4 linked regions of the Homo sapiens genome follow. The protein of the gene in region 3 purifies or fractionates together with the protein of the main gene of each other region. This does not show direct contact. Each region holds a gene or a part of one and is shown on either strand. Other genes may lie near its edges. The genes, in order: MGA, BCORL1, YAF2 and CSNK2A1.

What was found.
Region 1: the proteins of YAF2 (region 3) and MGA purify together in Homo sapiens (affinity purification with mass spectrometry; 6 studies listed by BioGRID and IntAct, with this or other methods). This does not show direct contact.
Region 2: the proteins of YAF2 (region 3) and BCORL1 purify together in Homo sapiens (affinity purification with mass spectrometry; 6 studies listed by BioGRID and IntAct, with this or other methods). This does not show direct contact.
Region 4: the proteins of YAF2 (region 3) and CSNK2A1 purify together in Homo sapiens (affinity purification with mass spectrometry; 8 studies listed by BioGRID and IntAct, with this or other methods). This does not show direct contact.

What each region holds. Positions count from the first base shown.
Region 1 is NC_000015.10:41,746,922-41,754,626, reverse strand, and holds part of MGA (MAX gene-associated protein), read right to left. Parts: intron 5,991-7,705; coding exon 5,700-5,990; intron 5,517-5,699; coding exon 4,012-5,516; coding exon of another isoform or gene 4,009-4,011; intron 191-4,008; coding exon 60-190; intron 1-59. UniProt on the Homo sapiens protein: Functions as a dual-specificity transcription factor, regulating the expression of both MAX-network and T-box family target genes. Functions as a repressor or an activator.
Region 2 is NC_000023.11:130,006,205-130,013,909, reverse strand, and holds part of BCORL1 (BCL-6 corepressor-like protein 1), read right to left. Parts: intron 3,403-7,705; exon of another isoform or gene 3,247-3,402; intron 1,333-3,246; coding exon 1,242-1,332; intron 961-1,241; coding exon 1-960. UniProt on the Homo sapiens protein: Transcriptional corepressor. May specifically inhibit gene expression when recruited to promoter regions by sequence-specific DNA-binding proteins such as BCL6.
Region 3 is NC_000012.12:42,227,869-42,235,573, reverse strand, and holds part of YAF2 (YY1-associated factor 2), read left to right. Parts: exon of another isoform or gene 1-4,352; intron 4,353-7,705. UniProt on the Homo sapiens protein: Binds to MYC and inhibits MYC-mediated transactivation. Also binds to MYCN and enhances MYCN-dependent transcriptional activation. Increases calpain 2-mediated proteolysis of YY1 in vitro.
Region 4 is NC_000020.11:540,253-548,117, forward strand, and holds the start of CSNK2A1 (casein kinase II subunit alpha), read right to left. Parts: upstream 3,539-7,865; 5' UTR 3,420-3,538; intron 1-3,419. UniProt on the Homo sapiens protein: Catalytic subunit of a constitutively active serine/threonine-protein kinase complex that phosphorylates a large number of substrates containing acidic residues C-terminal to the phosphorylated serine or threonine.

The sequences.
Region 1 (7,705 bases), on a different chromosome or scaffold from region 3:
CATTTTGTTTCTGGTTACAAAACTACAAAAACAACAATCCAAAGAGAAATAAGACTTACGGCTGTTTGAATGACTGTGTGTGGGCCGCTGTGGTCTTCAGGTGAGCAACATTAATTTCCTCTGAGAGCTCTTCTACAGTCTCAATGTCCACGTGCTCCTCATCATCCTCAATGTATTCTACACAGTTATTCTGAAATACATCATTATAAAAGTAAATAATGTATTGAGTGGCAAGCACACCTAAACTTTTCAAATGTTTGTTCCCCTTATAAAACCAACTAATGCCAGACATTCATGTTATATCATGAGTACTGATAATCCTAAGATTGTTAGTCATAATAAGGAATTAAGACAGAAAGATAACATATCATTAGAATTAACAATCAAGAACTATAAGTCATATATATATGTGAGCCGTGGTGGCTCACACCTATAATCCAGCACTTTGGGAGGCCCAGGCAGGTGGATCGTTTTGAGCTCAGGAGTGCAAAACCAGCCTGGGCAACATGGCAAAACCCTGTCTCTACAAAAAATACAAAAATTAGCCAGACATGGTGGTGCTCGCCTATAATTACAGCTACTCGGAAACCTGAGGTGGGAGGATTGCTTGAGGCCAGGAGTTCGAGGCTGCAGTGACCCAAGACTGCACCACTGCACACCAGCCTGGGAGACAAGAGTAAGACTGTCTCAAAACAAATTAAATAAAAAATAAATAAACAGACATAATTAAACTTAACAGCATCCTCAAAGGACTGCACTGATGCTTCAGTGTTATTTCTAGTGGACAAAATTCAGGCACAGATATATTAAGGTTTCATAAATCTTAAGATTAAATAACAGTAAAATAAAATTTGGTGAAAGAAATATAGAAAGGAGAAAAATTCAAGTGCCACTTTAAGGGGGCTTCATGACCAACATCCTATCAGATGCCCACAAATCAACACACATTAGCATACACAGGCAGGTATAGAAATAGGATACAGCCTAGTCCTGCAACTCTCTCAAAACCACAAAATGAGAGCTTGTAAGGAATTTCAGGTTTCAAAAAAGCCCACGATTGCTGTATTTCCTTATTATACCAAAAAAGGAGTCAAAGTGTTTACTGAGCACCTGTCACAGAAACTTGCTAAATATTTTATGTAACACTAGAGTTATGTGGATATATAGGATAAGCAGATCTTTTTAAGTCCACCTTTACAAATAGTATTTGCTTGCAACATTTCTGTGCCCCCTCAAAAAAAAAAAAAAAGTGTTTACTATGCCAGAAACATAGTAAATGAGCCCACCTCCCGGGATTCAAACGATTCTCCTGCTTCAGCCTCCCGAGTAGTTGGGACTCTAGGACTGTGCCACCACACCTGGCTAATTTGTGTATTGTTAGTAGAGATGGGGTTTCACCATGTTGGCCAGGCTGGTCTCAAACTCCTGACCTCAGGTGATCCGCCTGCCTCAGCCTCCCAAAGTGTTGGAATTACAGGCGAGAGCTACAGCGCCTGGCATAACTGCAGTATTTCTAAATAATATTCCAATAACTTCCACAAGGAAGATTTAAATTAAAGAAGCTATTTACAACTTCCCTCACAGTATTCCAATGCTAATCATAAAGGTAACGTAGGTGTGAGATGTGCAAATAAAAACAGTGTAGACTTTAGATTTTAGAGATCACTTAATATGACCTTTAAAAAAAAAGTCAGTATAACTTGTTTGCTTGTCAAATTCCCTATTAGTACATTCAAGCAATGCCTCCTTGTATGATTAAGATACTTCAGGCCGGAGGCAGTTGCTCATGCCTGTAATCCCAGCACTTTTGGGAGGCCAACGTGGGTGGATCACCTGAGGTCAGGAGTTCAAGACCAGCCTGGCCAATATGGTGAAACCCTGTCTTTACTAAAAAAATACAAAAATTAGCTGGGCATGGTGGTGCCCACCTGTAATCCCAAGCTACTCGGGAGGCTGAGGCAGAAGAATCGCTTGAACCGAGAAGGCAGAGGATGCAGTGAGCCGAGATGGCACCACTGCACTCCAGCCTGGGCGACAAAGCGAGACTCTGTTAAAAAAAAAAAAAAAAAAAAAAAAACTTTAAAGGTTCTATTATGTAAGTTCCACTAATAGTAATAGTTTTCACTGGTTTTAAAGTTGAACTGTTTTTTGGTCTCATGTTAACTTGGGCTGACTTACAGTGTGAGACTGCAAAAAACACAAAAAAATCAGCAATATAACTCCTAAAGTCAATGAATTTACATCCATTCTTGAAAAAGATTAGGCTATGGAGAGAAGGTATAAGTCAAATGAATACAGAATCATCCAATTTTAGAGCAAGATCCTCCTTTATAAATGAGACAATGGAGGTACTCAAATAACCAATATAAGAACATTAAGACCAGCCTGGCCAAGATGGTGAAACCCCATCTCTACGTAAATACAAAAATTAGCTGGGGCGGTGGCAGGCTCCTGTAATCTCAGCTACTCAGGAGGCTGAAGCAGGAGAATTGCTTGAGCCCCAGAGGTGGAGGTTGCAGTGAGCTGAGTTCGCACCACTGCACTCCAGCCTGGGCGACAGAGTAAGACTCCATCGCTAAAATAAAATATTTCAACATTTTAGATTTTTAAAACAGTAATCTTTTTGTCTTATTTTATGTGCATAAAGCAGTTAAGCAATAACAGAAAAGGACCAGATAACACAGAGGCAGAATGAATCTCAAGGAAGTGAGATTGTAAAACAAGCAGTTGTATGACAATCAGTGCAGACGGCTGTCATCTGCTCCTGAAAAGAAGGACACAGTTTAGATTTTAGGGCACTCCACAGGCAGCTGGTTATGATCTCCCCATGTTTTACATCAGACCTTATGTCAGGGGTCAGCAAACCACAGCCCACTAACAACTTCTTTTTTTTTTTTAACCCGAGACAGAGTTTTGTTCTTGTCGCCCAGGCTGGAGTGCAATGGCGCGATCTGGGCTCACTGCAACCTCAGCCTCCCGGGTTCAAGCGATTCTCCTGCCTCAGCGTTCTGAGTACTGGGATTACAGGCACCCATCACCACACCTGGCTAATTTTTTGTATTTTTAGTAGACACGGGGTTTTGTCATGTTGGCCAGACTAGTCTCAAACTCCTGACGTCAGGTGATCCACCCACCTCGGCCTCCCAAAGTGCTGGGATTATGGGTGTGAGCCACCGCACCTGGACTTTTTTACTAAAGTTTTAATGGAATACAGCTGCTTTTATACTACAACAGCAGTCAATTAGTCGCAACAGAGAGCCATCTAGCTCTCTGCAAAGTCTAAAACTATTTACTATCTGGCCTTTTACAGAAAACGTTTGTACAACTCCTGCACTGTATCAATACCTGACAGTTACTTATTTAAGTAAATACAACAACCCTAAATAGGAATCCTATAAAAAAAACTTCAGGAAAATAATAAAAATAGGCCATAAAGGTCATATTACAAAGGACGAAGACCAAAGTCTAGAATATAAATTCCAGAGACTAAATATTTAATTTTTGGATATAAAAGCAACTCAAGGCAAAATGGTACTAGAATATGATGGTATTTTCCAGTTTTTCTCCAAAAACAAAAACATCTCTCTATATGCAAGTGAATAAGTTCTCCTCTAGTTCTAAGGTCACCCATTCCCAGTTTCTGATTAACATCTACCAGAGAAGCTACAACCACCTCACATAGAAAACGTCATAGAAATTGACTGAGGTCAAATGGGAGTAGTGGTTTCGGGATTTTAAAAATCTAACTCGGTAGGGACTCTCAAGCACCTATCCCCCAAATATTTAAGCCAGCCTTCCCATAAAACCAGACAAGTCTCAAAGAATAAAAGCTCAATAAATGATGCTTGATTGACACAGCCTAAAGAACTACTAAGCCATTTAAGTCATAATCTTAAACCTAGGCATCCAATTAAATGTATTATGCCTTAGTGCTCTTCTGAAAAAGCTTCTGTCTTTAATAAATCATTTAAATCCTTTAGGTTTCAGTCACAACAAAAATGGGCTCACCACCTTTTCTACATCATCAACCTCCTCACTCTGGTAGTCAGAAACAACATCCACAATTTCATCAATAGAATCATCAGTTTTCTCATTATCATCTTCATCATCTTCTTCCAAATCCAAAACAGTGAAGTCAGCACTGCTTCTCCCACCCTTCTTCTCTTGCTTTGGTTGTATCTGTTCTCCAGGTAGCAGTAAGTGACCCTGAAAATGTCCATTCCCTCTGCTGCTTTTTGCAGCTCTCCTAGGAACAATGGAGAAGGCTGAAGGATTAGAAATCCTACTCCAAGAATCACATTCAGTTTTCAAAACTCTGGCATCTTCAGTAATTCCACTTTTTCCAAGTAAGTCAGAGATGCCTTGTTCTTGCTGAAACACATCTGAATTTTCCTGACATGTCTTTGTTTCTTTAATTAACTGCTCGTCTGCCTCTTTCTTACATTCCTGTGAAGCTCCAACACATTTCCTGGTTAAGGGGCCCTTCAGATGTTTTCTCCATCTTTCCCTGTCTTTCTCCAGAGAGTCTCCACATTCCTTCTCTTTGGCCTCTGGCTGTAGATTAGATTGCTGCTCCATAACTTTGCTTCCTGACAATTCAAATTTACTTTCTTCCTTAAAGGTGACTGGAAATTCACTTGAGTTTTCTTCTGGATTGTCAAATCCTTTCTGCTGTTCCACCTTCACATCACCAAGTTTTTGATGCTGTACTTTACTTAAATTTTGGACTGTCTTATTACTGGCTTTTTCAGAAATGGTCCTAACTTCCAGAACAGCCACTTTTTCTTTGGAACTCTTACGATTCCTAGCCCCATATTCTTCATTAACATCTTTATAATCTTGATCTGTATGTGACCCAGTGATACAGGAATGCTCAGATGGTTTGACAGTTGCACAACCTTCTTCTGGAAGGCATTCTTCATCCAAATGATCACCCCTATCTTCCAAGGAATCATTCAGAGTTTCTTCTGAGGTAGCAGCTCCTGAGTTTTGTTTTATTACATTAGCCTCAGGGTCTACAGCCTCTCCTTCTGACTGTAGAACCTTCTTCGTTTCTTGCTCTCTTTTTATTGAGTTTGTTTCATCTTTCTGGTCTGGATTCTGAGATTCTCTCTTCATCTGAAGGGAAGCAACATGCTGAAGAATGGAGCTAGGAACAGGCTTTTGTCCTGGGAGCTGTAACAAGGCAAAACTACCAGACTGGAGAGGAATAAGACTGGCTGTACCAACAGGCTGTCCTCCTGAGCTATAAGTTATTTTGGTTTCAGAGCCTGTTTTACTTGCAAAGCTTTGTGGTTCAGGAGGAGAAATCCTCAGGGTCAATGTACCAGCCTGAGACACAAAACTAGCTCCAGAGGAAAGCAATGATGGTGCCTGAGTGATAACATTCACTGCTGAAGAAGACCCAACAGCTTGAATTACAGGATTCATGACAGAGAAAGCAGAGGACGAAGTGGAAGATGGCGGAGTCTCAGAGGGTTTGGAAGGAGCAGGTAACCGGATTCCCATCACAGACCCTGGTTTAAAAAATAAGAGAGAAATTTTTAAATCATGACTGCCCATATCAAGACTTCCAATGTTTGCTTTTCTTTTTGGAAAAGTAACTCTTAAGAGATGAAGAAAAACAATCTTGGTGTATTAACATACCATATGGCCAAGTGATTCAACAAAAGAAAAGTTCATAAAAAAGAACTTTATACCTGGGTTCCGAAACATGACAGGCTGTAAGTTGGGCTGGGTATTAGAGCCTCGAAGCTGATGCAAAGGTAGAAGCTGGACAATCTGCCCATTAGGGTGCCTGAATAAGTTCATTCCACTTGGACTCCTAACAGGCTGCAAGACCATCCGATGTCCCTGAAGTTGTGTGTTTGAGACAGGTCTAAGAGTAGGAGAACCCTGCTGCACTGGAATCAACAACAATCGAGGTCCAGCACGTTTCACTGTGTTAGGAGAGACCTGTGGAGTAGCCACTGGAATTTGAGCAGCATTTTCTGAAAAACAGGAAATGGAAACATGGTACCCAAATTCCCCTTTAACACACGTAGGAAAAAAAAGTATTCATAATATTTTTTAAGACACAGTCTTGCTTTGTTGCTCAGGCTGGAGTGCAATGACACAACCTCGACTGACTACAACCTCCGCACCTCCCTAGTTCAAGTGATTCTTCCACTTCAGCATACCGAGTAGCTGCGACTACAGGTGTGCACCAGCACACCTGGCTTATTTCTGTATTTTTGGGTAGAGACAGGGTTTCACCATGTTGGTGAGGCTGGTCTCAAACCCCTGACCTCAAGTGATCTGCCGTTCTCGGCCTCCCAAAGTGCTGAGATTACAGGCGTGAGCCACCGCGCCCAGTCTATATTTTTTTTTTTTTAAAGAGGCAGGGTTGCACTTGTCACCTTCAGTGCAGTAGCTCAATCATAGCTCACTGCAGTCTCAAACTCCTTGGTTCAAGAGATCCTCCTGCCTCAGCCTTCCAAGTAACTGGGACTACAGGGATGTGTCACTACACCTGGCTAATTATGTTATTCTTTGCAGAGACAGGGTCTTGCTTTGTTGCTCAAGCTAGTCTCAAACTCCTGGCCTCAAGTGATCCTGCCATCTCGGCCTTCCAAAGTGCTGGGACTGCAGCCATGAGCCACCATGCCCAGTCATTAAGGCACAGAATCTGACCTTGCTTCAAATAACGTCTAATTTGGATTATAAAGTTGCTGAAATTCTGTAGTTTCATAATACACTATTTATGGCTGAGAACAGCCAGACATTATGGAGCTTTACATTTAGAATGGTAAAAAATAGAGTATCAACTGTCAAGAGGCACATTTAAAGAGATAATACTTTTGCCTAAAGAAAAACATGGTTATCTCTCTAAATCTGGATTCCTGTTAAAGGGATCATTCATGATAAAATTATGCTTCAACTTCATTCTTTTGAGACAGCATCGCACTCTGTCACCCAGGCTAGAGTGCAGTGGTGGGATCACAGCTCACTGCCACCTCGAACTCCCAGGCTCAGCCTCCCAAGTAGCTGGGACCACAGGTGCACGCTTTTTTTTTTTTTTGTGGAGATGGAGTTTGCTATGTTGCCCAGGCTGGTCTGGAACCCCTGGGGCTCAAGCAATCCTCCTGCCTTGGCCTCCTAAAATGTTGGGATTATAGGTATGAGCCAATGTGCCTGGCCTCTTATGTTTTTAAATAAAATCCAGATTCTGCACAATTTAACTTTAAAATTAAAGCTCATAACACTTACTAGAGTTATGGGTCAATTTCTAAGCTTATACCACCTGAGGAAGATAAAGAACTAAAAATCCTTGGTTTATAAAGGGCTTTTGGTTTTTAAAATTCACTAACAAATATGCAAAGCTTAAAGGTTTGTGGGAATTATTTTTCAGAAGGAAAAAATTACTTAAGCCCCCCAAAATGGAATGAAATTAAGAGACATCAAAGAAGCAGGGAAATAAACCTGGCTTAGAAGAGGCAAAAGATGTTTTTAAAACAAAAAGAAAAAGCAGAAATTTAATGCAGAAGATGTGAATTAATAGAGATTTCAAACCATTAATAGTACTTTAAAGATGCCCTTTCCTGATTGGAAGACATATTTCGAAATACTAAAGACATAGGAAAAAACAGTATGAGTAATCTAGATTTTTTTTTTTAGATCAAAGAGATAAAGAGGTAGGAATCATGGTAATAGTAAGCATAAATGA
Region 2 (7,705 bases), on a different chromosome or scaffold from region 3:
TGTAGGAGCAAAGGCGGGGATGAGGGTGGGGGTAGAAGGTGGGCCGGAAGATGGGGTTGGAGTGGGCATGGGCACAGACGGAGGGGCAGGGGCCGCTGGAGGCGTGGATGCTGGCATGGGAGCCAGAACCGGAGTGGGGACGGGAGCGAGAACCAAGGTCGGAGCTGAAGGGGGCACAGGAGCCTGGATGAGAGCCAAGGGAGGAGCTGAAACTGGGACTGAAAGCGGGGCAGGAGCTGGAGCCGACAAGGGAACCGGGCCTGAAGGGGGAGCAGAAGCTGGCACAGGCACCAAGACTGAGGCCGAAACAGAAAGGGGGTTCGAGTCAGAGATGAGCGTGGGCACTGACGGTGGCGCTGGAGCCAGAGCCGGGACAGGTGCTAAGGGAGGGGAAGGAGCTGGAACCGAAGTGGCAACTTGGACTGGAACAAGCCCTGAATGGGGGACTGGGGCAGGGACGGAGAGGGGAACCTGGAATGCATCTGGAACAGAGTGGGGCACAGAGGCCGAACCGGGAGCAGGGGGACAGATAGGGGCTGGCAGAGGACTGAAGTTAGTGGTAACCAGGGGCAGGGTCCCCTCCACAGGGACTCCAGTTCCCAGAGTTGCCAAAATGAAAGTATTCTTCTCTCCAACACCTTGCCGAGAGTCCAAAGCCTTTACTCCGGCGGGTGAGCAGTCAACCTGTTTGCTCATTTGGGTGTTGAGTGGAGTCCAGGAGCAGTCGGCCCTGCTGTTGCTGGCCTCGGCGCTGTCAGATGCGGGAAGCTTGAGCCCGTCTCCTGGGCTGCTCAGGGGCACCAAGAGGCCCTCAGCCTCTGCCACGTTCCCAGCGTAGTCCATTTTTGGCTGGGGATCGTCAGGCTTGTCTTCTGACTTGTGCCCAAGTTTTTCTGTAGCACTGCCATCTGGGTCTGCCCCCCGGGCATTGCTGCCACTTCCAACTGCCGTGAGCTCCACCTGCAACGACAGGATAGCATGCACATCTCAGCCAGCTCCCTGCAGATGGTGCAAGTGTCCTGAGGCCCGAGAGGCAACTGCTGGTCTTCTCTGCAACTCGACCAACCAGGTCTCGGAAGACGCAGAGGGCAGCCAGCCAATTTGTGTCCCACCAATACCAACTCCTGGGAGAGACCCTGTCCCTTCCTGCCCACTTCCTGGGATGGCAGGCTGGGCACACCTCCCAGGCAGCTCAGCTCCATCCTTTGGTGGACAGCACGTGGCTCCATAAAGCCTCTTACCTTGGAAAAACTGCTGCTGACACAAAACTCCTGAGATCCAAAGTGCTGGCAGTCGCCTGTCGTTGACTCCTCATCAGAAAGAGGTGCTCTTCTAGCATGGAAGATACAACCAGAGAAGGGACATGAGGCCCAGGATTTGAGCCAACACCACCTTCCCCAGAATGCCTCCTGCCTGCCTGGGTCCCCATAAAACCTTCCTACCTCACTTCCTGTAGTAACTTGTGAGGGGGATTACAAGGAACTGGGGGTTCTTGGTTACAAAGCGGAGGCGCCACACCTAGCTTTGCAAGTCCCTACCAGAGCCCAGTCTGACTAGACCCCCCTCTTTGGACTGTTTACCCTGTTTTCTAGGGCTCTTGCCAGGAGTGTGGACACCCTAGCACTTTTACCTTTTCCCTGGAGCTTACCTGCCAAAATGACCATCCAGGATGTACAGGGCATTGCTCAAAGGGGAGACATGAGAACCACTGAATGCCTCAAAAGGCATGCAAAACCCATTTTTCTTTTAAATACAATCTTATTTTAAGTCTCTAAGGGCAGCTGGCTGAAAGTGTCATATGGGTAATCCTCTTCTAAAACAAATAAACCCCTGTTGTGTTTTCAGGTCTAAATCTGAATCGTCACCTATTCACCTCCTGTCTTGCCTAGAGCAGAGACATGTTTATTAGCACTGGTGATGATACCACTTGGAGGCCACCAGGTCACTGGGTGCTGAGAGGCATTTTAAGAATACTACTTTTTTCCCTCCAGGAGACACTGCCCCCTTTTTTCTAGAGTTCTAGGCAACACCCTCCCTTCTACCCTCCTTCTATCCTTGCCTACATCCTATCTCCTGCCAGCACCCCTCCCTGCCCCCCCATCAGTCTCCCAGCACCACTTTGTTCTCTCCTGTCCGAAAAGCCTCAGACCCCAAATTCAGGTTCATATGTCCCAGAGAAAAGGGCTCAAGGCCAGAGAGCTGGGTCCCAAAGGAGGAAAACTCAAATGCATCTCCCCCTGTTTAAAGTCTTCTCCAAATTTCAGGTAAGCATCATAGAAAATTGTACATCCTGACAAAAAAAAAAAGGGAGAGGGTGGCATCAGACTGCCTCCCTCCCCTGGTATTTTAAGTACAGCAAGAACTATTAGGCCAGGCATGGTGGCTCACACCTGTAATCCCAGCACTTTGGGAGGCCAGCTGAGGTGGGTGCATCACTGAGGTCAGGAGTTCAATATCAGCCTGGCCATCATGGTAAAACTCCATATCTACTAAAAAATACAAAAATTAGCCAGGCGTGATGGCAGGCACCTGTAATCCCAGCTACTTGGGAGGCTGAGGCAGGAGAATCGCTTGAGTCTGGGAGGCGGAGGTTGCAGTGAGCCGAGATCCCACCACTGCACTTCAACCTGGGCGACAGAGTGAGACCCTGTCTCAAAACAACAACAACAACAACCAAAAAAAACTATTGCCCCCTGCCCTTGGGAGCTGTGGGTGGGAGTGGCCAAGGAGGAGGTTTAGATTAAAGAATAAAACCCCAACATAGACGCTGCAGTGCGTTTCCTGGGTGGGCAAGGCACAGGACTGCTCTGTGTGCCCCTGGGGAAATACACTGTGCCTGAGGTGACCTCCCTTCTTTCTTTCCTTTTTTCCCTCTTTTTTTTTTTTTTTTTTTTTTTTTTTTTTTTTAGATTGAATCTCGCTCTGTCACCCAGGCTGGAGTGCAGTGGCACGATCTCGATCTCGGCTCACTGCAACCTCCGCCTCCTGGAATCAGGCAATTCTCCTGCCTCAGCCTCCAGCATAGCCAGAATTATAGGCATGCTCCACCACGCCTGGCTAATTTTTGCCTCCCTTCTTTAGAGGCTCACCCCAAGCTCCTGAAGACAGCCCTGAAGAAGCCAGCTCTCGCCTCCCCAGTCACCCTAGCCAAAGGGCAGTCAGGTTGCTGGAGCCAACCCCAACAAGAAGGGGGAGGGCCCTGCTAACTTCCTCCCTCCCACTGAAACAGGGACTCCAAAATTGTACCTGGGGCAAGAGAAGCAAAAAAGGCAAGGGGGATCACCACGGGCCTCTCCCCATCTTTTCAGGGATCCAGAAGGGGCTAACCGAGGGGGAAAGGCTTGTTCCCTTTAAAAGGCAGTTGGACTGGCAGAAGTGGGAGGGCTCCACTGCTGGAAGTGACTGTTGGTGACAAACAGAAATGACTGTAAGGAGAGGCAAGGGCTTTAGATGCAGTCAGGGTGGTCTCGGGGAAGGGGAGGGAGGGAGGGCCTGAAGGAAAGGGAAAACATACTTTCACATCAACTCCTAAGAGACCACAAAAGCGAGACCTATGCCCAGCCTTGGGCCAGGGGGAAGCGTGTTCCCACTAGACTTGCCAGGGACGGTTTTAGGGGGAGTACTCAAGGGGAAACAAGCAGCACTTCCCCCAAGCAACCCCACATGGGAAGGTGCTATTTATTTACATTCTTTCCCCTCCTGGCCATACAAAAGGGAGTGGGCTGCATCCTCATTCTCCCCTTGCAAGCTCCCACCCTGCCTGAAATGACACCTCGAAAGCAGAATCCCTGCCGTCGAAGGCAGCTGCCAGAGAACCACAGAACCAGGCCAAGCAACAGCAGTCCTGGCCACTCCAGCCATACCCACACCTGAGTCCAGCCCCGAAGGCGCTGCAAAATGTCATGCAGCCGTGTTTCAAATCCTCTGAGAAGAGGGGTGGGCAGAGCTAAGCAAACATTAACTTGCTCCATTGAGAGAAGAGCCTGGGACAGGAGTAACTTGCAGGGGAGGGGGCCCGGGAAGAGCTGGGTCAACCAGGCAAGGTTATGAGGGTGCAGCTGGCGGAGGCGGGCGGCAGGAGGGAACAGAGGTCATAGCAGGCTTCAGTCAGGACTGAAAATCAATCCTGCTGTTTCTTCCCACCACAGAGGAGGCAGAGCTGTTATGTTCAAGGCTTTGTGGAACTTAAACCAGAAATGGCCATGACCCCTCTGGGCCATTTCCCTAATTATTAAGGGCTAGCACCACTGTCAAACCGGACCCTCTTCAGTTCCTGCTGGGCCCAGACTACCCGTAAGAGAAATATACCACCCAGCACACACCAGGCTCCTTACCTTCCAGTCCTGGGAGACTTTCCCTGGTTCGAGTCCCACAGTACCCCAAGATTGCCTTCATTCCAACTTGGACCTTCCCCAAACACACTGTGCTTTTTTTTTTTTTTTTTCTTTCTTTTAGACAGAGTTTCTCTCTTGTTGCCCAGGCTGGAGGAGTGCAATGGTGCGATCTCAGCTCACTGCAACCTCTGCCTCCCGGGCTCACGCCTGAGCCTCCCGAGTAGCTGGGATTACAGGCATGCGCCACCACGCCCAGCTAAGTTTTGTGTTTTTAGTAGAGACGGGGTTTCTCCGTGTTGGTCAGGCTGGTCTCGAACTCCCGACCTCAGGTGATCCACCTGCCTCGGCCTCCCAAAGTGCTGGGATTATAGGCGTGAGTCACCGTGCCCAGCCACACTGTGCTCTTATTGTCTCAGGGAAATACCAGCTCTCACCTCAAACTCCTACTCATTCCTCAAGCCTGGGCTCAAATGCCACTGCCTCTGGGAAGCCTTTCCTTATTCTCCCACCAGGAGGTTTGTCAATCTTGCATCTGGACTCCCACTGGACCCGGACATGCAATTCTAGGGCACTCACCACCAATGTACTAGAACTACTGGTTTGCTCTCATTATGTTGAATAAATGTTTGTTGAATGAAGGCATGAATTAATCCTAGAAGGGATGCAAGCAGGCAAGCAGACACATTTAGCTGTAGGTTTGCCTAGAGACGGCCACCTGGGGCCAGCCGCAAGCCCATGCCTCCTGTTCTACAGTCCTCAATTGCAGCTGCCAAAGCTGGCAGGCCTCTAAAACATCACTTTAAGAGTTGAACCCCAGGCACAGCTTTGTACCCCAAATTCCTAAATTCTACAAGTTGTAAAGGGCCAAGGAAAATGATTTTTAAATAAGGTGAGATTACATTTTGGAAACCAGTGATAGCATGGTCTAGGCTGTAGCGGCCTAGACTGTAGCAAGAAGGTGACAATAAAGGGTGGATGAGATCAAAAGTGACAACACTTAAAAGGTCATCTTAGGCCGGGCGTGGTGGCTCACATCTGTAATCTCAACACTTTGGGAGGCTGAGGCAGGTGGATCACCAGAGGTCGGGAGTTCGAGACCAGCATGACCAACATGGAGAAAACCCGTCTCTACTAAAAATACAAAATTAGCCGGGTGTGGTGGCGCATGCCTGTAATCCCAGCTACTCGGGAGGCTGAGGCAGGAGAATCGTTTGAACCCGGGAGGCGGAGGTTGCGGTGAGCTCAGATCTCACCATTGCACTCCAGCCTGGGCAACAAGAGCTAAACTCTGTCTCAAAAAAAAAAAAAAAATGTCCTCTTAAGCACTAGGCACAGGTTTAGAAGGAAGGAAAATCTGGCTGGGTGCAGTGGCTCACACCTGTAATCCCAGCACTTTTGGAGGCCAAGGCAGACAGACTGAGATCAGGAGTTTGAGACCAGCCTGGGTGACATGGTGAAACCCTGTCTCTACTAAAAATACAAAAATTAGCCAGGCATGGTGGTGCACACCTGTAATCCTAGTTACTCAGGAGGCTGATGCACGAGAATCACTTGAACCCAGGCAGCGGAGGTTGCAGTGAGCCGAGATCGTGCCACTACACTCCAGCCTGAGCAACAGAGCAAGACTCCATCTCAAAAACAAAAAACAAGATGGAGGGAAAATCAGATTTTGAGCCTACTTCCTGCTCCTTTCTTGGCAGGGATTTACAGTAGATGGTGAACTAAGGTAACTTGTCTATTGGCCTCTTTTATTATTATTATTTAATTTTATTGTTTTTGAGACGGAGTCCTGCTCTGTCACCCCGGTTGGAGTGCAGTGGTGCAATCTCGGCTCACTGCAACCTCCACCTCTCGGGTTCAACTGATTGTCTTGCCTCAGTCTCCCCAGTAGCTGGGATTACAGGCATACACCACCATGCCTGGCTAATTTTTTTGTATTTTTAGTAGAGACGGGGTTTCGCCATGTTGGCCAGGCTGGTCTTGAACTCCTGACCTCAGGTGATCCACCCGCCTCGGCCTCCCAAAGTGCTGGGATTACAGGCATAAGCCACAGCACCCGGCCCCGCTGGTCTTTTGAAGGCTCTAGTCCAGATTTCTGCATCAAAGTCTCAACTACTTATAACTAGGTCAACATGACCTGCCAATGAATACTTACGCAAATCATTATCATCACCCTGCCTTTCCCTAGATCATCTCTTAGTGATCATCTGAGGACATGCTTCATATGTAAAGGAAAACACTTTTCTTCCTGAGCACCTAAGAATTTCATCTCATTTTCCATGGTCTTGACTCTTTTTATCCTAAAATTAAATTCCTTTTAAGCCCATCTCTAACTTGTTCCTCAGTACAGAGAACATTAAGCTATCAGGCACTAATGGCTTAAGAAAATAAAAAGGTCTATTCTGCTAACCTTGACCTCAGACAAGTATATACTTCTCCAGTTAGGAACAGAAGAACAAAGTAGATAAACACAAAGACTTCCATTCCTTTTCCCTTCAAATTACCAATACTCCCCTATATGCGCACACACATTTCTAAGATTTACCCAAGAAACGTCAGATCTTGAATCCCAGGGAAAGCCATATTGTTCTGTGTCTTGGTGATTTATCTGATGTATATTTGAATTTAAACAGTCAATGGATTGAAACAACAAAAAAACACCAGCAAGCATGAAGGAGCAGTGCCTTCTCTAAAAATGAGAGAGGCGGCCGAGTGCAGTGGCTCACACCTGTAATCCCAGCACTTTGGGAGGCCGAGGTGAGTGGATCATGAGGTCAGGAGTTCGAGACCAGCCTGGCCAACATAGTAAAACTCCGTCTCTACTAAAAATACAAAAATTGGCCAGGTGTGGTGGCATACGCCTGTAGCCCCAGACTCTGTCTCAAAATAAATAAATCAATAAATAAAAAATAAAAACGGCCGGGCAAGGTGGCTCACACCTGTAATCCCAGCACTTTGGGAGGCCGAGGCGGGCGGATCACGAGGTCAGGAGATTGAGACCATCCTGGCTAACATGGTGAAACCCCGTCTCTACTAAAAATACAAAAAATTAGCCGGGCTTGGTGGCGGCACCTGTAGTCCCAGCTACTCGGGAGGCTGAGGCAGGAGAATGGCGTGAACCCGGGAGGCAGAGCTTGCAGTGAGCCGAGATCGCGCCACTGCACTCCAGCCTGGGCGACAGAGTGAGACTCCACCTCAAAAAAAAAAAAAAAGAAAATGAGAGAGGCACTGCAGCCATCACACACAGCTCTTTGACCAAGGGTTATGAAAGCCAAATATAAATTCTGAAGGCCATTTTGAGTGCTTTGGGTATGGGGCATGATCAGGCAATGGCACATCTTGGTCAACCAAATATTCTGGGGAACAGATAA
Region 3 (7,705 bases):
CTCTCTCTGAATTCTCTTCTCTTTTGATTTTGGCTCTAAGTTAAACCTAAGAGCTCTAATTTCTCTGTTATCTGTTATTTTCCTAGTGGTTTCTGAAATTCAGGGTAGAATCTGTGTTTGTATAGAACAGTGTGGAACAGGGTATTGTTACTAGAGAAGATATTGATTGCATCACAGAATATTAATATTTTTCCTCTCTGGTAATGTTAAAAAAACAAGATTAAAGGACTGCAGAACGGTGTTGAGAAGCAAAAGTTTCAGTAGTTGGAAGAAATAATTCTCCATAATTGACTTATTAATGAACAGGGTAATTTCCAGAGTAAGGTTGGCAAGTACTAAAGCCAAGACTGGATAGCTGCAGAGCAGAAGGATGCAGTTTGCTAATGATTTGTTTGTGTGACGCACAGATGGGATTTGAATCCTTTGGGTCAGACTGACCTTTGAACTGATTCTGCCTCATTGCCAAATGTTAGGCCAAGTCTAAGCCATTCTAGACATTTGAAAAACTTTTTTCTTTTTAGACCTGCAGAGAAGATTGAGTCCTTGTTCTACCTTTGAAGTCTTCTTTTTTTCTTTTTTCTTTTTTGAGATAAGATCTCATTCTGTTGCCCAGGCTGGGTTGCAGTGGCATCATCCAGGCTCACTGCAGCCTCGAACTCCCAGGTTCAAGGAATCCTCCCACCTCAGCCTCCCAAGTAGCTGAAACTACAGATGCACACCACCATGTGTGGCTAATTTTCTTATTTTTTGTAGAGATGGGGGATCTCTATGTTGCCTAGGCTAGTCTCAAACTCTTGAGCTCAAGTGATCCTCCTACCTTGGCCTCCCAAAGAACTGGGATTATAGGAATGAGCCACCATTCGGCCCCTTTAAAGTCTTTATTGGCAATATAATTTTTTTTCTTTAAATAATATTAAGTTCAAATTCTTTATGCAACAGAAGCCCATTTCCTTTGGCTATATCCATGGTAGGTCATGTCTTTCTAGAGAACGAAGTTACATTCATGGCATGTATTTCAAAATAAAATGATTTGTTGTAGCTTCAGTTCCTCAAGTTTTAATTTTATTTTAGATTTTGGGGTACATGTGCATGTTTGTTACTTGGGTATATTGCAGAGTGGTGGGATTGGGATTCCAGTGTACCCATTACCCAAATGGTGAACGTTATACCCAACAGGTCATTTTTCAGCCCCTCACTCCAAAATTTTTTACATTGTGCTTTTGTGAGAGAAACAGTAGTAAATGTCAAACTGACAGGAAATTTTTTAAAAGGAAACAAAATGCCACGGTGACACATTATTTTCAAGATGCTGCACAGTCTTTATATCTGAAGTTTCTTTTCTTTCTTTTCTTTTCTTTTCTTTTCTTTTCTTTTCTTTTCTCTTTTTTTTTTTGAGGCAGAATTTGAGACAGTCTTGCTCTGTCGCCCAGGCTGGAGTACAGTGGCGTGACCTCGGCTCACTGCAACCTCCACCTCCCAGGTTCAAGCAATTCTCATGCCTCAGCCTCTGTGGTAGCTGGGATTACAGGTGCCCGCCACCACACCAGGCTAATTTTTGTATTTTTAGTAGAGATGGGGTTTCACTATGCTGGCCAGGCTGGTCTCAAACTCCTGACCTCAGGTGATCCGTCTGCGTCGGCTTCCCAAAGTGCTGGGATTACAGGAGTGAGACACTGTGCCCAGCCTATCTGAAGATTCTTATAAGGCAAGAAATGTCCCAAATATAAATGCAAGAAACTTTAGGAAATTAAGGATCATTCTTGGCTGGCCCAGTGGCCCACACCTGTAAGCCCAGCACCTTGGGAGGCTGAGACAGGAGGATTTCTTGAGGCCAGGAGTTTGAGACCAACCTGGGCAACACAGTGAGATCTCGTCTCTACTAAAAATTAAAAAAATTAGCTGGGTGTGGTGGTGCATGCCTGTGGTCCCAGCTACTCAGGAGGCTGAAGTGGGAGGATCCCTTGAGCCCCAGAGTTCGAGGTTGCAGTGAGCTGTGATCATACCACTGCACTCCAGCCTGGGCAACAGAGTGAGACCTTGTCTCAAAAAAACAAAATTCTGAGTCATCAGAGAAAATGAAATATTAAATATTAAGGATAGTCTGTATGAGGGTGATAATCAATGTGTGATGATTAATTTAAGACTGGTGTCTTATTGGTACTTCATCTAGTAGTGGACAGTTACTTAATATTGCTTAATTCAGATAGCAAATATTTAGAAATGAAAATGATAGAATTATTGGTTTGGGTTTCAAACTGTGGTCTAAATGGTTCATACCAGGCTTTCAAATGTAACAGGTAATGTTACATTTTGTTAGAGGATATTATAACAGTCCTTTAGGTTTCTCATAGGTGTTATTTTAGAGAGCTATAAAAAAGATTTCACATAGTAGAAAGAGTGCTAGATGTTACACTAGTATGATTTTGGTAACCTGGGTTCATATCTCATTTCATATCAACCATTTCAATATTCAGCATTCAGCAAATGTTTATTGAGCATCTTATTTAAGGGCTGAGTTGGATACTAGACATACAGTGGTGAGCAAAATGGATTTTTTTGTTTCTTTAAAATTTTACAGTTTTGCAAATTAGAACCGCTTTAACTGTACCAAGCTCTATATGTGAGGTTTAGTGTTAGTAGATCTTTCCTTTATGTGTAGGCTGAAGAGGTGGAACTTCTTCATTAAAAATATATGTTGTTTATAACTGAACACAGTATTATTATTATGGTTAGGTAAAAAGAGTGAGTTATTTCAGCTTCTTTTAAAAGTAAGCTATAAAATCCACATTCTGAAAGAAGCTTAAACCAACTATCATCTGGTAGAAATCTTTTCAGCATCGTTGTTTTCTTGTCATACTTGCTTTATGTCTTCAAATTTGAGGTTTGGCACTGATTCTTCTAGACTTTTGGTGTAGGAATGGGAGAAAAAAATTGAGGACCATCTACATAAGTCCTTTTTAAAGAAATGCATGGTTCCTGAGCCGCCTCCTGTCTATCTGAGGAGCCTTTCTAGCAACCATTTAGTTGTTCAGAGACTCCTTATTCTAGGAGATTTCTTACTTGTTTGTTTTTTGTCCTGTAAGAGGACTCACACTGGTTAATTGTATATGGGTAAATTTTACAAGTGATTATTAGTGTTTGTGTAGTCTGGATATCAGAGTGGTTTTCAAAGTGTAGTCTGAGGGACACTGAGAGTCCCTGAGATCTTTTTAGTTGAAGCTTTCTATGAGGTTCACACTGTTTTTATAATAATTTGAAGATGTTATTTGCCTTTTTCACTGTGATGGTGCAGAGGCAGTGATGGGTAAAACTGCCAGCACCTTAGCATGAATCAAAGCAGTGGCACCAAATTGCTATCTTCATTGTAATATTCACCACCATGTACATGCATGCAGTAAGAATAATGTCAGTTTGAATTAAGAATATCCTTGAAGCAGAAAAATTTACTAATTTTATTACATCTCATATTTTTAAAAATATTCTGTCTGACCAAATGGGAACTACACATAAAGCACTTCTACTGTATACCAAAGTACAGTGGTTAAGGGAAAGCACATGTGTAGTTTGTCTTGCAAGCAGAGCTAGTCTTTTTGTCATAGAGCATCATTTTTACTTGAAAGACTACCTGAAATACCATAGTTATTCAGACTTGGATATTTAGCATATATTTTCTTGAAAATGAATATATTCAAAAAATATATCACTTCAAGGAAAACACTTGATACTATATGTTGCCAGTGATAATCATTCAAGTGAAAATTAGAATTTTTGAAAATTTGTAGCAACAATGAGCTTTAGAGTTTCTGTGTATAAAGACTTTTCTGAGAAGATTAGTGGTGGTATCAATGAATATAATTTCTGATATTTCACCATGAAATGTGTCAGCATTTGGAAGCTACGCATAACTCAGCAAACAAATGGTTCCTAGTTACCGATGTATGATTTTACAAAACTGTAATGGGTAATCCATCAAAGTACAAAATACCAACAGATTTTAAGGGAACACTGAAAACTTCATTGATGTGGTTTCAGATTTCATATTGCAACTAACCTTTGAGAAACAACTGTGTTTTTATGTAGTATCAAAGAATAACACCTATAGTTATCTGAAAATGCTATTCAACTACTTACCTCTTTTCAACTGTATATCTGTGAGAGTCCAGATTTTCTTAATATTTTTGGACCAAAACAACATATTGCAACAAATTGAATGCTGAGATAGATGTGACAATCCAGGTGTCTTCTACTAACCAGATGTTAGAGGTTTGCAAAAATATACGATGCCACTCTTCATACAAAATATCTTTGTTTTGGAAAATAATAAGTTTTTAAAATAAAAATATGTCATTTAATATGTGATGTATTTATTTTTTAAATGAACTAATATATTTAGATTTTTATCAGTTTTTATTTCTAATATAGTAAACATTGATAGATGACCCACATTAAGAAAAACAAAAAACAAAAACTCTTAAATTTTAAGAGTGTAAATGATCCTAAGACCAAAAAGTTTGTGAACTGCTGGTCTAGAGTTTATTGGCTTGGGTTTCTACATGCAATGGCTTTACTTCAGCAGGTATTCTTTTTATTTCCTTTATAGTGTGAGGCCTGATAACTAATATCCTAGTTGTTTAACTCAGTGGCCCAATCTCACTCATCTGTTGATGTCGCCTCCAAAGTATTTGATGTTCTTGGCCCTTTTTAAATTGAAACTCTACTTCCTTCATGTCTCTAAGACTCCTTTTTCATAGATTTCTGTGTATATCTCTGAAACCCATTTCTGCCTCCCCAAACTTGGCATCTGTATATTCTTTACTTTGTATGTGGCATAAACTCCTTTCTGGAACCTCAGCTAGAAACTGTCATTGTCTCAGCTTTGATTCTAATTTGTAGTCCTCCTTCATGTCCTTTCTCTGGATTGTCTCTTAAATCTATCCTTTTTCCTTTTATGTAGTTACAGTTCAGAAGCCCATATCACTTCTGTCATGAACTATTGGACAAATTGGTCTCTCCTTTGGAATGCTACTAACATGATCTTCATTATCTTTTTTGAAACCTATGTGATTATGTTGGTCCCTGTATATTTAAAAAAAAAATTGAGTCCTATTAGTGGCTGCTGAATAAAGGCTGAGATCCTTAGGATAGTGTTCAAGGCCATAATAATAATCTATCCCTAAACTACCTTCCTAGCTTCATTTCCTGCTGCTTATCCCAATCCTGTGCTGTGTCAGCACTGAATTATTTTTATCATATGGTACTTTTTCTTTCTCTTTCTTTCTTTCTTCTCTTTCTTCTCTTTCTTCTCTTTCTTTTCTTTCTTGAAGGAGTCTTGCTCTGTCGCCAGGCTGGAGTGCAGTAGCGCGATCTTGGCTCACTGCAATCTCCGCCTCCCAGATTTGAGCGATTCTCCTGCCTCAGCCTCCTGAGTAGCTGGGATTACAGACGTGTGCCACCATACCTAGCTAATTTTTTTATTTTTAGTAGAGACAGGGTTTCACCATGTTGGCCAGGATGGTCTCCATCTCCTGACCTCGTGATCCGCCTGCCTCAGCCTCCCAAAATGCTGTGATTGCAGGCGTAAGCCACCATATGGTACTTTTCAAAGAAGCCCTCTAGGATTACCATCCCTCCACCCCTTGGTATCATATTGATTCTATGTATGTAGAGTCAGTCATGCACTCCATAATGACATTTTTGGTGAGTGGGGGACCACATATACAGTCCCATAAAATGATACTATATTTTTACTCTACTTTTTCTATGTTTAGATACAAATACTTACCATGGTGTTACAATTACCTGCAACATTCAGTATAGTAACATCCTGTACACCTGTAGCTTCAGAGCAATAGGCTCTACCATATAGCCTAGGTATGTAGTAGGCTGTACCATCTAGGTTTGTATAAATACATTCTATGATGTTCTGACAATGAAATCACCTAACGATGCATTTTTCAGAACATATCCGTCATTAAATGATGCATGGCTGTATGTATATGTAATTATTCCTGGAGAATAAATATATTGTAGTATAATTGTCTAGACACTTATCTGCCCTACAGGGCAGAGACCGTCTTATTCACTTTGGTATTCCCAGAAGCTAATAAAATACCTGAAGTATTGTAGATATTTAAATGTTTTTTTTTTTTTTTAATTTATTTTTTTATTGATAATTCTTGGGTGTTTCTCACAGAGGGGGATTTGGCAGGGTCATGGGACAATAGTGGAGGGAAGGTCAGCAGATAAACAAGTGAACAAAGGTCTCTGGTTTTCCTAGGCAGAGGACCCTGCGGCCTTCCGCAGTGTTTGTGTCCCTGATTACTTGAGATTAGGGATTGGTGATGACTCTTAACGAGCATGCTGCCTTCAAGCATCTGTTTAACAAAGCACATCTTGCACCGCCCTTAATCCATTTAACCCTGAGTGGACACAGCACATGTTTCAGAGAGCACAGGGTTGGGGGTAAGGTCACAGATCAACAGGATCCCAAGGCAGAGGAATTTTTCTTAGTGCAGAACAAAATGAAAAGTCTCCCATGTCTACTTCTTTCTACACAGACACGGCAACCATCCGATTTCTCAATCTTTTCCCCACCTTTCCCGCCTTTCTATTCCACAAAGCCGCCATTGTCATCATGGCCCGTTCTCAATGAGCTGTTGGGCACACCTCCCAGACGGGGTGGTGGCCGGGCAGAGGGGCTCCTCACTTCCCAGTAGGGGTGGCCGGGCAGAGGCGCCCCTCACCTCCCGGACGGGGCGGCTGGCCGGGCGGGGGGCTGACCCCCCAACCTCCCTCCCGGACGGGGCGGCTGGCCGGGCAGAGGGGCTCCTCACTTCCCAGTAGGGGCGGCCGGGCAGAGGCGCCCCTCACCTCCCGGACGGGGCGGCTGGCCGGGCAGGGGGGCTGACCCCCCCCCCACCTCCCTCCCGGACGGGGCGGCTGGCCGGGCGGGGGGCTGACACCCCCACCTCCCTCCCTGACGGGGCGGCTGGCCGGGCAGAGGGGCTCCTCACTTCCCAGTAGGGGCGGCCGGGCAGAGGCACCCCTCACCTCCCGGACGGGGCGGCTGGCCAGGCGGGGGGGCTGACCCCCCCCCCCCACCTCCCTCCCGGACGGGGCGGCTGGCCAGGCGGGGGGCTGACCCCCCCACCTCCCTCCCGGACGGGGCGGCTGGCCGGGCAGAGAGGCTCCTCACTTCCCAGTAGGGGCGGCCGGGCAGAGGCGCCCCTCACCTCCCGGATGGGGTGGCTGGCCGGGCAGGGGGGCTGACCCCCCCCCACCTCCCTCCCGGACGGGGCGGCTGGCGCGGGCGGGGGGCCGACACCCCCACCTCCCTCCAGGACGGGGCGGCTGGCCGGGCGGGGGGCCGACCCCCCCACCTCCCTCCCGGACGGGGCGGCTGGCCGGGCGGGGGGCCGACCCCCCCCACCTCCCTCCCGGACGGGGCGGCTGGCCGGGCAGAGGGGCTCCTCACTTCCCAGTAGGGGCGGCTGGGCAGAGGCGCCCCTCACCTCCCAGACGGGGCGGCTGGCCGGGCGGAGGGCTGACCCCCCACCTCCCTCCTGGACGGGGCGGCTGGCCAGGCGGGGGGCTGACCCCCCCACCTCCCTCCCGGACAGGGTGGCTGGCTGGGCTGAGGGGCTCCTCACTTCCCAGTAGGGGCGGCCGGGCAGAGGCGCCCCTCACCTCCCGGACGGGGCGGCTG
Region 4 (7,865 bases), on a different chromosome or scaffold from region 3:
GCTGTGGAAGTATTCCACATGGGTCCACTCCATTAAAGTTCACATTCACAAATAAACCAGGCTGCACATTTAATACTTTGCTTGGAAATCTCAGCTAAATATACAAGTTCATCACTTGCAAATTTGGCTTTCCATATAACCATAGGATACAATTCTGCTAAACTTAGTTGCTACTATGTAACAAGGATCCCCTTTCTGCCAGTTTCCAATAAGAAAGACCTCACTTCTGTCTGGGCCCTCACTAGCAGAGTCATTAACATCCATATTGCTACTAAAAGTATGTCCTAGGCCTTTTCTTTTTTGACAGGGTCTCACTCTGCCACCCAGGCTGGAGTGCAGTGGTGCCATTACCGCTCACTGCAGCCTTGACTTCCTGGGCTCAAGCGATCCTCCTGTGTTCCAGGCCTTTTCTATCATGCCCCTCAAAACAATTCTAACCTTTATCTACTGCCACTTTCATTTTTAGGTAATAGTACCCCACTCCTGGTACCAAAATCTATACTAGTGTTCTACTGCTGCCATAACAAATTACCACAAATGTAGTAGCTAAAAATAACACAAATTTGTTATCTCACAGTTATTGTAGGTCAGAAGTTGGGTGGGCTTGGCTAGCTAGGTCTTTTGCTTAGGGTCTCACGAGGCCAAAAATCAAGGTGTCTCAAGGTTGCATTCCTTGGTGGAAACTGGGAAATTCACTTCCAAGCTCAATCAGGTTGTTGACCAAATTCAGGTTCCTTCTGGTTGCACAACTGAGGTCCCCATTTCTTTCTGGTTGTCAGCCAGGGACTGGTCTTTGCCACTAGAGGCTGCCCACATTCCTTCTGATAAACTTTCCATGTGGTCCTCTCTAGCAAAGGCAAATGGAGTCCTTCTCATGCTTCAAATCTCTGATTTCCTTTTCTGCCCATTTCTCTGATCCCAGTTGGAGAAAGTTCTCTGCTTTTAAGGACTTAAGTGACTAGATTCGGCCCACCCAGAAAATCCAGGATAATTTTTCTATTTTAAGATTCTTAACCTTAATTACACCTGCCAAGTTCCTTTTGCCATGTAACACAGGATAGCTACAGATTCTGGGGATCAAGGTATGGCACCTTGGGAAGAGGGAGATGTAATTCTGCCTACTACAAATCCAAGTCCTATGGAAGGGTTTAAACTCACTTCCTAAAGAAAATCATCCCTTTCTTTAACAGAGTGTGAAGTAAAGATGTATATATTTTACTTATGTGAAGTAAAGTATATATACATACATACATATGTCTTTACTTATGTGACACAAAGATGTATGTTCAGAGATAGAGACAATAGTAAAAACAAGGACTCACTCTGGATGAGTGAGTAGGAAAAGGACGCGCAGTATGGAAAAGGAGTTGCCACCTGTTTCATCCTCAAATTGCAAGGCACTTCACCCATAACTACTTAGAAACTAACCCATGCTCCTCCTTAAATGTGTATTTCTCTTCTCTGTATTCCACAAAGGAGTACATAACTAGGCTTTTTTTTATTTTTAAAGAAAAGTCACCTCACGGGGACCTAACTGTATAATCAGTTGATTAATCAATCTAAGCAAATTTCCAATCTTGCATTCTTTCTTCAAGTCATACACCCTCCCGCAATAGCAAACCAAAGCCAAGTATTTCAAAGTCACAGAAGGACAAAAACATGCCCTGCTAAGACTGCAGGTGAACTTTTGAGAATACCACGGAGGAGAACTAGTATTGGTACTGGACTTTCAGCCCCAGGTCCACCAAGCCAGTAAAGCCAAATGACTTACAACAAAACCCTACAACAACTACAAAGATACTACTCTAAAGCCCTGTCTACAGTCAAATTCTTGACTATAAATTTTACTTAGAACAGAAGAGCCCCAAATATACCAGCTAGTCCCTTTACAGTGACAGGTAAAAGCTACTTACTACACTTACTACCTGCCAGACACTGTAGTAAGCACTTGACACAAATTGTCTTATTTACTCTTCTCCGTAAACTCACAAGCTAGAAAATACCATCATCCCCCTTTTACAGACGGGAAAACTGAGGCTTAGAGAGTTTAGGTCACACAGCTAAGTAGCAATGGCCCTGATATTTGAGAACCTAGGCAGTCTGGTTTTTAACCACTGGGCCTACACTGCACTCCTCAGATGGAATGAAGTCTCCAATTCTTGGAAAAATCTTCCCTTCTTAGTTTTCTTTTTTCTTTTTGAGGCGGAGTCTCGCTCTGTCGCCCAGGCTGGAGTGCAGTGGCGGATCTCAGCTCACTGCCACCTCCGCCTCCCAGGTTCAAGCGATTCTCCTGCCTTAGCCTCCCGAGTAGCTGGGATTACAGGCGCGCGCCACCAAGCCCGGCTGATATTTGCATTTTTAGTACAGACGGGGTTTCACCGTGTTGGTCAGGCTGGTCTCGAACTCCTGACCTCGTGATCCACCCGCCTCGGCCTCCCAGAGTGCTGGGATTACAGGCGTGAGCCACACGCCCGGCCTCTCTTCTTAGTTTTCATTTCCTCTCCCCATGTCCCATTCTCGTAGAATTAAACAGCTGAAAAGTAATCAAGTCTTCCCAAATAATTTGCCACCTTCTTTTCAAAACTCTTTCCTCCACACAAAGCAATAGCCAAGATGCAACTTCTCCTGACCCTGACTCTGCTTCCCCAAAACAAACTACAGAAGCTCCACCCATCACCTGCTTAATCTAGCAATGTTCCAACACTGCAAAAAACACACAACGAAAAACAAAATTGAAAAGTCCTACTCTTTCAAAAGGTCACCAACATATGTATACCCTTAGCCAAGCTTTCTCTCCATACCTCTTTTTCTATCCAGGCTCCTAACTAGTCCTTAACTCCAACTCCAGACGTTCTGCCCCACGTCTTGGTCCCTTCCCCCTTTCGCCCCAGCAACCCCGCCTGGGGTTCTCTCCACCTCGCACCCACTCTGCAGGTGGGAAGCTCAGCCCCGCCCAGAGGGACCCTAAGAAGGCCCCTACTCCAGCTGCCCAGTTTCGCGGGAGGGTTCACTGCACACTACCCAGCAGGCACCACTCCCTCCGCACCCTCCCCCAGCACCCCCCTGCGGCCCCACCCCTCAAGTTCCCTTCCCCCTCTGACGACCCCCTCCTCCAAGTTGTCCCCTAGTCCCCACCCAGTTCAGTCCTCTCCTCTGCAATAAGCTGGACTCCGGCAGCCGGTTCCCACCCTCACATCGGCCTCTGCCCCCAAACCTCGCCCTCCGCCCTGAGGGGTGGCCCCTGGGCCTCCCCGATGGGCTGCAGGGGCCTCGCTTGGTTTATGTGTGAAGGTGGGGGCAGGGGAAGGCGACGGGCCGCTCAGGAGTCTGCTGGAAGCGTGAGGGTCGGCCGCGCTCCGCTGCCCTATCCTGGGCCCACCCCACCCGCCAACGACCTCGCCTGGCTGCTCCCTAGGTACCTGTGGTGGAAGCGGCAGCGGCGGCGGCCGCTCTCCCCTCTGCTCACACAGACAATATGGCGGCGATGGAGGAGGAGACACACGGCTCGGCCGCCAGCCGCAGGGACCAGAGCGAGGCTGCAGCCGCTGCTGCCGGAAGCGGAAACCCCCTCCTACCAGGAGGCGGGGCGAGACAGCTTCCGACTCCGCCCCCAGAGGAATCTCTCTGAATGCGGCCATGCTGGGATGTCCTATTGTAACCTTAGGGATTCAGTTCTGGCCTAGGGTGCAAAATGGAAGGAATCCCCAACGCAAAGCAGAATAAGGAGACTTGCAATAGTTAAGCGCATTTTATTTCAATAGTGTTAACAAGTGACAACAGAGAGAACACGAACCTCCCATTAGGTGAACAGTTGGTTTGACCCAAGTTAAGATGGCGGTACCCAGGTTTCCCACACTTCACCCAGCTGGCCCCCCTTTCTTGAAAAGAACCATGCGCGACCTGCAGAGCTGTAGAGCCAAGCATTCTGGGAGCTGAAGTCTCTTTTGCTCTGACCCCTCGTTTTAAATTAGGGTTTCAGCAACACTTTCTATTCAAACTTGGAGTTCGGAAGAAGTGAATGAAAGTTGGACCCTAGGAAGGGCATGGCGCAGGAGTCTGAGAAGTGAGGATACTAGCTCTCAAGAGACCAAGGCCCAATTCCTTCCTCCTACAGGAGTCCTGCCAAGAGCTGTGCGTCCAAAATACAGTGTTTTTTTTTCCTTCTATCTGCCTCCCACCCCTGCTCTCCTTGCCCGAGCTACCTCCCCAAAACAGCCACAAAGCACTTTCTACCATGCAGAGCTCATCATGGTCTCCCTATGGTCAAAAATCTCCCATGGACCTCTTTATGCACCAAAGATAGCCCAAACTCTTCACTTGACATTCAGAGTCCTCCATAATTTGGCCAAACCCTCCTTTCCAGCCTCCTATTCTGCCACTCTCTTCTCAAATTCCGGAAGATTCCACCCACAAGACTGCAAACAATTCCTGGAACTTAGCTGTGTTGCCTCCCTCCCTTTACACTGGCAGTTACTTCTCTTACTGTCACCTCATGGACTGGATAATTTCTGTATGCCGATTGAACTAATTCAGGGATCCTTTCCTCTAGGGGTCTCCTCTCTGTTTAACTCCCTCCAACCCAGACACTATCAGTCAGTAACCTGAGGACCTCAGTCTGTCTCCTCCATCAGACTGGGAGCCCCCAGTGGACAGGGCTCCATCTGATGATCAACCTCTCCTTTGCAGGCCCTGATAAAAGCTGAAGCGTCTAAGAGTTGCTGAAAGGAGTTCAAGTATTAGTCTCACCTCTGGTGGGACAGAGGTGTGAGCACTGGAACGAGGGTGAGGAGGCCAGGTTCTTTCAGTACCAACCATTATCCCTAACTGTCTCAGAATAGCTGGTTGTCTCAGGAATGGGCCTCTCCACCCTCCACAGCCCTGCCTTCACAGTTTGTCAGCTGACTAGCACCTCTGCTCCCAAAGAGGCACCTCTTCCCCATGTGGGGTTAGGGCTGGTGGTGGCTGCAGACTTATAGTGATGGCCTCAGGGAGGTGGCTGTGGCCTTCTCTGGACCTCATCTGCTAGACAGCTTGTGACATCTGATCCCAATTGCCTGGGAACCCACAACAGTTTTTCTCTCAGTGTCCTGTAACTGGGCCTCAATTTCCCCACTTGTGGACTGAGGAGGTTATACAAGATAATCCCAAAGTTTCTGGGAAGCCATCTTCCAGGAAATGATACCCTTCTACCTACCTCTCGAACGTATCTTTTTGGCTCTTGTGGCTTTGTTTTTCCCAACTGTATTCACATTTGTTTAACTCACAACAATTCATCATTTGCTATGAGCCAGACACTGTGCTAGGTACTGGGGATGTGTTATGAGGAAGACATACACCAGTTGCTCACTGGTGGAGCTTACCTTCTAAAGTGAGAAGCAAGTAATGCACAGGTAAACAAATGCATAAACAAAGTAATTTCAGGTAGCAATAAGTGCTACGAAAGGAAAAGATAAGTAGCTGTGAAGTATAGAGCTTTAGCTTGAGTGGTTCAGAAGGTCCCTTTGAGAAGGAAACAGTAAGTGCAAACGTCCCAAGGCAGGAAAGAGCATCACAAGTTTGAAGAAGGAGGCCATGGTGGCTGAAGCACTGCAAATAAAGGGAAGAAGAGGAAGAAATATGGTGGGAGAGGTGGGCAGGGCATTCAGGTCATGATAAGGAAGCTGGGTTTTCATCTGAGTGTAGTGAGGATATTTCCCATTGCTTAGCCTTCATGCCTTTCCAATCTCAGCCTCTCTCACAGCATTAGTTCTTCATTCTTCTTCCTAGTTCTGGCCTCTATCCATGACTTCATTCAGAGGGCTCACCTGGGCACACATATACAACCCTCATACTCATGCAGGACATAATTGAAACCCAACTCCTGCCGTCTACTACGCCAGCCTCATGTAGGTCTCCGGTCTCAAGAGGCTTCCCATCCCAAGTGTTCACCTAGTTGTAGACTTAACATTTATCCTTAACTCTTACTGTCTCTGATCCCCCACATCACACCTCTCAGGCTAGTCTTTCTGCAAACAACAGCAGCAGAAGCAAGAGTTAAGATGTTGAGAGTACTTGCACTGTGCCACACACTGAATGTTCATCATCTCACTTAATCCTCATGTCAACCTGATGAGGTAGAAACCAAAAGTATCTCACCGTACAGATGAGGAGACTCAGGTTCACAGAGATCACAGGCCATGCCCAAGGTCACATGCCGGAGATGGAGCTTGCATTTCAACCTGGGCCATTAGAGTGACTCTCTCTCTCTCTCTCTCTTTTGAGACAGGATCTTGCTCTGTTGTCCAGGCTGGAGTGCAGTGGCATGATCACAGCTCATTATAACCTTGAACTCCTGTGCTTAAGCGATCCTCCCACCTTAGCCTCCTGAGTAGCTAGGACTACAGACATGCACCACCATGCCTGGCTCATTTTTAATTTAGTAGTATTATTATTACTATTATTATTATTGTACAGATGGGGTCTTGCTATGTTGCCAGGGCTGGTCTTGAACTCCTAGGCTCAAGCAGTTCCCCTGCCTTGGCCTCCCAAAGTGCTAGAATTACAGGCAAAAGTTTTAATCATGCACTAAGAACCTAAGTGTATTTGCTTTCTATTGCTGCTTAACAAAATCACCCCACAATATAGTGGCTTAAAACAACAATATTTTATGTTTGTGTGGATTGGCAGTTTGGACATGTCTCAGCCAGGACAGCTCTTTTCTGCTCCAAGTGGTCTTTCCTGGCTTACTCTTACGTTTGCTGTCAGTGAACAGGCCAGCAAACTGGTTAGAACTCCATGGCCTCATTCACATGTCTGGCAGTTGGTTGGGGTTGTTGGCTTGAGTGCCTTGGTTCTCCTCCATGTTGCTTCTTCAGTAAGCTAACTCAGGCTTACTTACATGACGGCCCCCAGAAGAAAGAAAACAAAAGCAGCAAGATCTCTTCAGATCTAGGCTTAGAAATGATATAGCATCATTTTCACTGTATTATATCGATCAAAGGCAGTCATATGGCCAGCTCAGATTCAAGGAGAGTAGAAATAGATTCCATCTCTTCATGAGAAAAACATCAAATCATACTGCAAGGAGTCATGTGTATAAGGAGGGTGGAATTGTTGTGGCCACCTTTGCAAACATTATATCACATAAGTAATCGTAGGCATGGAACTGGTTAAAGAAATTATGGTACAGCCAGACATGGGGCTATTCACAGCAATGAGAACTAACATTTTTGAGCACTTAATATGTGTCAGACACTGTACAAGATGCTTTACATCTATTAACTCATTTAATCCTCACAACAGCTCTCTGTGGCCAGTACATTTTTAATCCCCATTTTAGAGATTAAGAACACCAAGTCTCAGAGAGGTTAAACAACTAGTCCAATGTCACACAGCAAGTGACAAAGCCATTGAAAAGAATGAAGACAGTATTATGTCCTGACATAGAAATCTGGCCCTGACATTCTGTTATACGATACAAAGCAAGAGACAAACAGTAGTTTGATCAGAAAACATTTAAAAAGCACATTTAAATAATTAGGAGATGTGTGTCTTTTTTTTTTCTGAGATGGAGTTTCACTCTTGTTGCCCAGGGTGGAGTCCAATGATGCCATCTTGGCTCACTGCAACCTCCGCCTTCTGGGTTCAAGCGATTCTCCTGCCTCAACCTCCCGAGTAGCTGGGATTACAGGTGCCCACCATGCCCAGCTAATTTTTGTATTTTTAGTAGAGATGGGATTTCACCATGTTGGCCAGGCTGGTCTTGAACTCCTGACCTCAGGTGATTGCCTGTCTTGGCCTCCCAAAGTCCTGGGATTACAGGCATGAGCCACTGCGTTCAGCTGGAGATGTATGTCTTATAAAAATTAGTAGAATAAAAATTTTTA